2 separate regions of the Homo sapiens genome follow, and region 2 is linked to region 1. A link means that fine-mapping ties the variant in region 1 to the expression of a gene that starts in the linked region. Tissue or cell type: monocytes after interferon gamma. Region 1 holds a variant in brackets; the other region holds the start of a gene. All regions are shown on one strand. Distances are from middle to middle.

What was found. PIP is the estimated chance that this variant, and not a neighbour inherited with it, causes the effect.
Region 2: RPL9 starts here. The variant in region 1 is fine-mapped to the expression of RPL9 in monocytes after interferon gamma (Fairfax 2014, PIP 0.91).

What each region holds. Positions count from the first base shown.
Region 1 is chr4:39,543,492-39,547,696 of GRCh38, reverse strand. It overlaps SMIM14 (small integral membrane protein 14), which reads left to right. Exons shown (of 5, transcript NM_174921.3): 5 at 1-1,361. All of the region lies in intron 2 of UGDH-AS1 (UGDH antisense RNA 1), which reads right to left. Among named protein-coding and RNA genes, the nearest start is that of UGDH-AS1, 18 kb to the right of the region's middle. The variant CTTT/T (reference allele first, on the strand shown) is at 1,565.
Region 2 is chr4:39,457,155-39,461,374 of GRCh38, reverse strand. It overlaps RPL9 (ribosomal protein L9), which reads left to right and starts at 2,453. Exons shown (of 8, transcript NM_000661.5): 1 at 2,453-2,484; 2 at 2,935-2,981; 3 at 3,066-3,181; 4 at 3,694-3,789. The coding sequence starts at 2,936. LIAS (lipoic acid synthetase) reads right to left here and starts at 2,319. Exons shown (of 11, transcript NM_006859.4): 1 at 2,213-2,319; 2 at 413-585. The coding sequence starts at 2,257. RefSeq lists enhancers at 1,792-1,841, 2,212-2,506, 2,702-3,452 and a silencer at 2,222-2,271.

The DNA of each region.
Region 1 (4,205 bases):
ATGAAAGTCTGTCACTCTACATGAATTATGTGCTCAAATTTGACCAACTCAGTTTAAGACACAAAACAGTAATTTGAAGAAGGAAAAATGAAGAGAGTTTCTAGTTTAATGGGTTAAATTTTTGTTGTTGCAATAGTAAGTTTAGTCTTCTTATAATATTTCTAAATGAAAAATCATAGGTATTTGTTACCATGTGTGAAGATTAGTTTGTTAAAAGCAAAAGTGGTCGTGTGATATGCTAAATGTTAATTACTGATTTTATATGTTTAAATCACGCCAAACAAATTATGTCTGTGCCATCCAGGGTCTGTTGTTAATCTTTTTCTGAGTACTTGGATTGGGATAAAGGGCTTGTACTATGCACTTTTTATTAATGAATAAATAGAAAACGTTAGTAACACTTTGTGTTTTCTGTTTGGCTTTTGTGGGAAGAGAAGCAAGCATCTTTTGCCTAGTAGATGTTAACATTGTGTATTAAACAGTTTCTTTGTAAGACCTAACTAAAGACATTCCTAAGAGAGAACTTAAGTTTTAAGAAAAGTTGTGAGAAAAATATTCATAAAATATGCAGTATGGGGCCAGTATTCAGAAGTAGAGTTTCTCTCTTGGAAATTAGATTGCAGTCACATTTCTTTGGTTATTTTCTTTCTCTCTCTCTTCCTAGAATACCAGGTAAAATAGACATTTACTTTGAGGGACTAATATCCAATAGTGTTAATTATTTAAGCAGATATATCTAGCTCAAAAGGAACCAGACATGTCACTGTACCAAAAACACACAAAAGTGAAAATTTGCTTCTGTTCTGTGACCTAGAATGTGTCCAGACATTAAAGGTCATGAATACTCATATACATGTAAAAATAGTAACACTGCTCTGGCATGATTTTGACGTCAGTGTTTATGTAATAACTTCAGTGTTATATTTAAAATAGATAAATTTGTGAAATAACAATTTCTTGGAGACAGTCAACTTTTTATGATTTAATCTAAAGATTGTCATGTACATGTCAACGGATATCTGAATCCTCAGTGAAACTGTTAAGTTTTCATTAAATGACTCTGCTGCAATACTAGTTTTCTTCTCAGAAAATGGAATTCAAATAAAATAAGTTTTTTGGTCTTGGCATTTCACCTGATGACTTTCTCTGTTCTGGATCTCAATTTGTAGAGTTGTTGGGGGTTCCCCCCCCTCCAAAAGATGCTCCATAAACACCAACTACAATTATCTTTCATGATCATATTTTTAAAAATTGGAGTTACCTGTGTGATCTTTTCCCATTAGTTGCTTGTAGGGGACTTTAGTGTGCGTATCTCTTCTCAGACAAATGTATTATGTTCGTTCAATAAACACTTCAACAAATTTTTATACTTGTTTCTTAACTCTCTATAGGCTTTAAAATGGATTTTATTCAGGATTTGATTACAGAAACTATTTCAAACCATCAGATGCCAAATTGTCTACTGACGTTAGTGAGGAGATGTCTGGGAGGCAAGGACTATGTAGGGGTGAAAACAATATATATAGTTTTAAAGATAAAGCAACTTTCTTTCTTTTTTCTTTTT[CTTT/T]TTTTTTTTTTTTTTTTTTTGAGACATAGTATCACTCTGTCACCCAGGCTGGAGTACAGTGGCACAATCTTGGCTCACTGCAACCTCTACCCTCCTGGTTTCAAACGATTCTCCTGCCTCAGCCTCCCGAGTAGCTGGGATTACAGGCGCCTGCCACTGCGCCTGGCTAATTTTTGTATTTTTAGTAGAGACGGGTCTTCACCATCTTGGCCAGGCTGGTCTTGAACTCCTGACCTCGTGATCCACCTGCCTCAGCCTCCCAAAGTGCTGGGATTACAGGCGTGAGCCACTGTGCCCTGCCAGGATAAAAAAACTTTGATATCAATACATGGTTTTGGTTTTGATTTTTTGGTTTTTGGTTTTTTTTTTTTTTTTGAGACAGAGTCTTGCTCTGTCGCCAGGCTGGAGTGCAGTGGCACGATCTCGGCTCACTGCAACCTCCGCCTCTGGGGTTCAAGCAATTATCCTGCCTCGGCCTCCGGAGTAGCTGAGACTACCGGCGCGTGCCACCACACCTGGCTAATTTTTGTATTTTTAGTAGAGACAGGGTTTCACCATGTTGGCCAGAATGGTCTTGATCTCTTGACCTCATGATCTGCCCGCCTCGGCCTCCCAAAGTGCTGGGATTACAGGCGTGAGCCAAGTGCCTGGCCATCAGTACATGTTTTATTGGGAGGTGGGAGGATCACTTGATGCCGGGAGTTCAGGACCAGCCTGAGCAACATAGACTCTGTCTCTACAAAAATAAAATAAAACTTAGCGGGACATGATGGCCTGCATCTGCAGTCCCAGCTACTTGGGAGGCTGAGGTGGGAGGATGGTTTGAGCCCAGTAGTTCCAGGCTATTGTGTGAGCTGTGATGATGGCACCACTGCACTCTAGCTAGGGCAACAGAGCCAGATCCTGAGTCAAAAATAAATGTTTTAAAGAGTATTATTTCCTTTTACAAATCTCCACTTGTTTCTAGGAAATTTAGAAATGAGAAAAGTATTATTTGCAATGTCTGGAATGCCAGAGTCTAACCTCTTAAATATGTGCTCATAACCTCAGATACTTGGTCTATGCTTGATAATTAATGGTTTTGAATTGCAGTGTTTATTAGTTTTGAAAATTTGACCAGAATTAAACATAAATACCACACAGCAGGTTCAGCATTATAGAAAAAGCCTCTTAAATTGTTTTTAAATAAATGAATCTGTTATGTATGTAATTCAGTCAGTGTCAGAAAGAGAAGCACTTTTCATATACAAAAGGCATCTCAGACCCTGGGTTGAATGCAGCTTTTCATGACAACTAATTAGTATGTAAACAAACTTTGGAAGTCTAGATGTGTTTAAAGGGACTTCCTTACAATTAATCCAGCCAGGACAATTTTGTGGTTACAAAATACAGGACAGATGGAAATCTGACACCAGAGCCTATACCCCCAATAAATGGGTTAAGATTTATATCCTTGCAAATGTTGTTTGTCTTCATTTTTATCTAACAGCCGTTTTTTTTTTTGAGATAGTCTCACTTTGTCACCCAGGCTGGAATGCAGCAGCACCATTATGGCTCACTGCAGCCTCGACCCCTGGAGCTCAAGCTATTCTCCCGCCTCAGCCCCACAAGCAGCTGAGACTACAGGCGCACCCCACCACACCAGGCTAATTTTTGCAGAGATGGGGTTTCACCGTGTTGCCCAGGCTGGTCTCCAACTCCTGAGCTCAAGCTATCCTCTTGCCTCGGCCTCCAAAAGTGCTGGCATTACAGGCATGAGCCTGTTACAGGCCGAAAGAATGAGGGTCGTGACCAACTCAGTATACCACTGGAGGCTATATGAGCAAATAGAAAACTGTTCTCATGAAAGCAGGATGTTGGAAAACTAACAACTGTGTCTGCTGCCAGAAGGGTTGCTGAGGGCAGTCACACCCCAAGCACAGTGTTCCTTGTGATTATCTATAGGAACATCTGAAGCCTGTTGTACAAAGAAAGCAATTATGTATACCTGTGATAAATCAAGCAACTGACCAACTGCTACCTCTCCCTCCCTGCTCTTTCTACCTAATAAATACGAAGGGCTGTAGAAGCTCAGGGCCCTTGCTCACTAGAAGGAGCCCCCTGACCCCTTCTTCCAAAAATACTTTTTGTCTTTGTCTTCGTTTCTGCATTCATCCCCCTTCGTTCACTCCCATAACAACCAACAGCGACAACTGGCACCTAGGACAGGGACGTGAGTGAAGGTCTGCTGGAGCAGAGAAACTGACACTGACAAGAAGAACGAGAATGAGAAACCCTGCGACGAGTCTGCTGACAGCTAATATAAGGTCAGTGCCCTAAAGAGGTACTGGGAACGGGAAGTTTCTGAATCAGGGTAACATGGGGGAAGAATTTGGCTATTTTCTTTTTTATATTTGGAGTTTAGTTCATCCTGCCATTATTCATTTCTTATTCTGCTAGACAGCAGGAGTCATGTTCAGAGTCAAAAAATTTGAAAGAATCTTTCTGTTCTCTCAACAGCGCCAATTAAAAATAATAAACAGGAGCAGGAGGATGAAAATTGGCCTGTGTCACCCCCTCTAGTAGCAGAAACATCTGAACCGCCTCCTTCAGTAGCAGAAATAGAGACCCCAATACAAAGAACTTTACACTCTACTGC
Region 2 (4,220 bases), 86 kb after region 1:
AACTCAATCTACCTTCTACATAAAATTCCATCATTCTTTTAAATTAAGGCAAGGTATCCATAGGTCACATGTAAATTGACTAGGAGAAGCACAAGTTAGATCATCAACAGCTACTAACCCAGATCTAACAGACTAGTAGCAAAGCAGTAATCTTTACTCTGAAGAAGTTGGATGCTGGGTAGAAAATGGGGAGATGGCAGTGTAACATAGTAAGGGCAAGAGAAAAGAGAAAGATTCCAAAAATTTCATCTGCTTACTTGTTCTATCTAGTTCTGTTATCACATCTTTCTAATGATTTTTAGCTAAATTTAACAAGTCTGATATTAAAAACAGATTCTAGGGCTTGGTTATATCTGAAAATAATGCACAATAAAGGAACGGGACGTTAAAATTATCTCAAATTTTCAATTACCTTTCTCCTTTCTGGCGTTTTAGGTTTCCTTTATATTCATCCCAGGTGCTCCTGTCTGCAAGATCACCAGATACAAAATCTTGAAGGTCTGGTCCATTCTGTAGGAGTTCCTTTTTTTTATCTGGCAAGGAGCTTAACGGTCTGACTGGGCTGCAAAAATATCTCCCAAATACCTAAAGAAAGAGTTAATTATGACGTTTATTTAGTGGAGTCCGTAATAATTTAGTTTTAACCCATCATAACACCTAAACGGAAGGGTAAAGCCAAAAAAGTGATTCAGAAATTATGTCAAACTAGGAGCTCTAGTATTCTAGGGCATTAGAATATAAAAGATGACTGAAGGAACCAAACCTAAAAGAGAGTAAGAGTTGACTGTTTACTACTGAGTTTAGAATAGATTTGGAAATCTGTTTTTTTTTTTTTTTTTTTGAGACGGAGTCTTGCTCTGTTGCCCAGGCTGGAGTGCAGTGGCGCAATCTTGGCTCACCGCAAGCTCCGCCTCCCGGGTTCACGCCATTCTCCTGCCTCAGCCTCCTGAGTAGCTGGGACTACAGGCGCCCGCCACCACGCCCGGCTAATTTTTTTGTATTTTTAGTAGAGACAGGGTTTCACCATGTTAGCCAGGATGGTCTCGATCTCCTGACCTCAGGTGATCCACCTGCCTCGGCCTCCCAAAGTGCTGGGATTACAGGCGTAAGCCACCGCACCCGGCCCGAAAATCTCTGGAACTAACATATATCACACTTTCATGTACTCCACCTACCAGGAACTAGATGTTTGTCTTTCAACAAGATTGAACTGCAATAACTGAAGAAGGTGCCACAGTTTAAAACTGTTCTGGTCCTGACTTGAATCAGGGGCGTTTAAAGTGAAGTGTGCAATAAATCTCTCGAGCTTTGAATAATTGTTGAAACGTAGGTTAATAATGCCCAATTAGTTTCAGACAACTGGAAGGTTAAAACCAAGCCTAACGTTTTTACTTTCTTTTTCTTTTTTTTTTTTTGAGATGGAGTCTCGCTCTGTCGCCCAGGTTGGAGTGCAGTTGCGCGATCTCGGCTCACTGCAACCTCCGCCTCGCGGGTTCAAGCGATTCTCCTGCCTCAGCCTGGCGAGTAGCTGGGACTACAGGCGCACGCCACCACGCTCAGCTAATTTTTGTATTTTTAATAGAGGCGGGGTTTCACCATGTTGGCCAGGATGAACGTTTTTACTTTCTAGGTTACATTGTTTCTGTGTTTGAACGTGGCAGTCAAGAACATAAGAAATCATGGTATTCGGCTTTTACATCTGAACACAAACGTGTATGAGATAGCCAAAACACTACAAAATCCACGAGTCTGCACATGTATCTCAAAAGAACCTTCGACAACTCAAAGAGTGCCTGTTAGGGTGTTGCACGATTGCTACTGCACTTCTCAATGTCTGCCGCTGAAGCCTAGCGGACAGGTTTGTGTTCTCTGCGGCTAGAGTGGTGTCTCACACACAGTAAGAGTCCAAGACAGAATAGCTATGTGGGGTGCTCACTGCAGTGCTCCATAAATATAGGGTACAAACCACTCTAAGCAGAAAATAAGTCCTCGGTGCTGGCCCAGAGAGACTTGCAAACAAACTGATGCCAGAGACTCTATATCATGGGGCTGGCGGGATAATTACATGAGATTACACGAAAAACGTTTAAAACTGCCGTTGGCTAGTAGTAAATGTTCAGTAAATGCACTGGCCTTTATTATTGGGCATGGGCGCTCTGAAGGGATAGGATCCCCCCACCCCACGCCCAAACCCGTTCGCCCCGCCGCTCACCCGGGGCCCCAGGGTGCGGGCTGCATCCCCGCAGCGTAGAGACATTTCCTCTTTAGGACTAGCGCAGTGCAGGGGTTGAGGGATCGCTAACTCCCGGGAAAGGACAGGTCGAAATTACGTCGCTCCATTTATGACAAGCAGCCAAGCTGCTCCACGATTGGCTGCTTTAGCCTTACGTGCGTCGCGCACTCATGACGCAATACGCAGGCCCCTTACGCGATACAAGTACGTAATGACGACAGACGTTCTTTCTTTGCTGCGTCTACTGCGAGGTAAGGATGTTTCTGTGCTCGTGGGGGTACTGGGAATCTGAAACCATCTGCTCTGGGAAAGGCTGCGGCGCGGCTCCCACTCTCGGAACCTTGTCCTGTTTGTCCCCCAGCTCGGCAAGCGCCATATGAGCCTGGCGGCGCCAGATGCGAATCCTGTTGTGGGCTTTTTGGCCTATTCCCGCCCCTCAGTCTTGCCGGGATGGCACCGCCCGCATAGGACTTCCAGGGTTGGGCTGAGTGGGAGTTCGACTGCTGGGCCTCGTAATTCTCGCTTTGGGGCTGCTCCTTCCAGGCTGGGACACACTGGGGCCCGCTGTCGGTCTCCCGTCCTCCGACATCTTGTCTGGAACTTCCGCCTGGCAGTCTCCAGTAGGAGTGGAGCTCTGTGCGGCGTAGTTTGGTGGAAAAACGGGCCTTGCGTCGGCCTCACCCCCAGTGTTTGTGTTTCAGAATGAAGACTATTCTCAGCAATCAGACTGTCGACATTCCAGAAAATGGTATGAGACTTGATGTCTTTTACTTACATCTTTACTGCACGTTCCAAGCGTTGTGTGGCCTGACGAGTGTGTTCTCTCTTCTAGTCGACATTACTCTGAAGGGACGCACAGTTATCGTGAAGGGCCCCAGAGGAACCCTGCGGAGGGACTTCAATCACATCAATGTAGAACTCAGCCTTCTTGGAAAGAAAAAAAAGAGGGTGAGGGTTTTTCTTCTGATAATTCAGTTGCTCGTTGGAAGGTGGTTTATAACAGCATCACATTTGGTTGCTTTAACAATTTTCGAATTAAGGTTCAGTGCTTCAGCTTTAAATGTTGCTGTCCAGAATACCAGCCTGTTCAGTGAAATTGAAAAACCAGATTCTGAACACAGCCAATTATATAAAGCTCAAATGTAATAGTGGTCATCAGTGACACGTCTTAATGGTGTTAGAAGTTTGGTTTATTTTCCTAGTGATTGCTTTGTAAAAATCACAGGAACCGGCAGTAGGTCATTTAAACCTGATGATTTAATTTTCCAGAAGGGAAGTTTGTTGCAACTTCTACAAAGCTTAACTGTTGGGAGGTTTTATAGGTGGTTGGATTTTTCCAGTTGAAAACCATGTGCTTTGATAAGGGTTAATTCTAGAATCTTAAAGTAATTCGGTAAGTGGTCTGTTGTCTTTTAAGCCTGCATATTTCTGGAAAGAATACATTTTTTGTTCTGTTACAGCTCCGGGTTGACAAATGGTGGGGTAACAGAAAGGAACTGGCTACCGTTCGGACTATTTGTAGTCATGTACAGAACATGATCAAGGGTGTTACACTGGTAAGCAGATGTATCAGACTTCCTTGTTTTGGAAAGGGAGGTTTCTCAAACCTGTGCTTTATACAGCGTAAGTGTCTCTTTCAGAGAATGGGTCATGTATTTTATTTGGTGTAATACGCAAGAACTTGGCAAAAATAGGCATCTGTGGGTCTTTAAGCGATAGAGCTGAGAGCAAAGACCAGATGGGTACAACATGTTTGTTTTTTTCTGTTGTTGGGTTTTTTTTTTTTTTAATCAAGGCTGGGGTCTCGCTATTTTGTCCAGGCTGAGCTCAAGTGATCCTCCCACCTTGGCCTCCCATAGTACTGGGATTGCAGGCATGAGCCACCATGCATGGCTAGATGGGTACAACTTTTAAAAAGTAGGCTAATGATGAATTTTCATACCTTCCGAATTCTTTAAGATAGGAAATCTACAGTTGCAGTACTAGT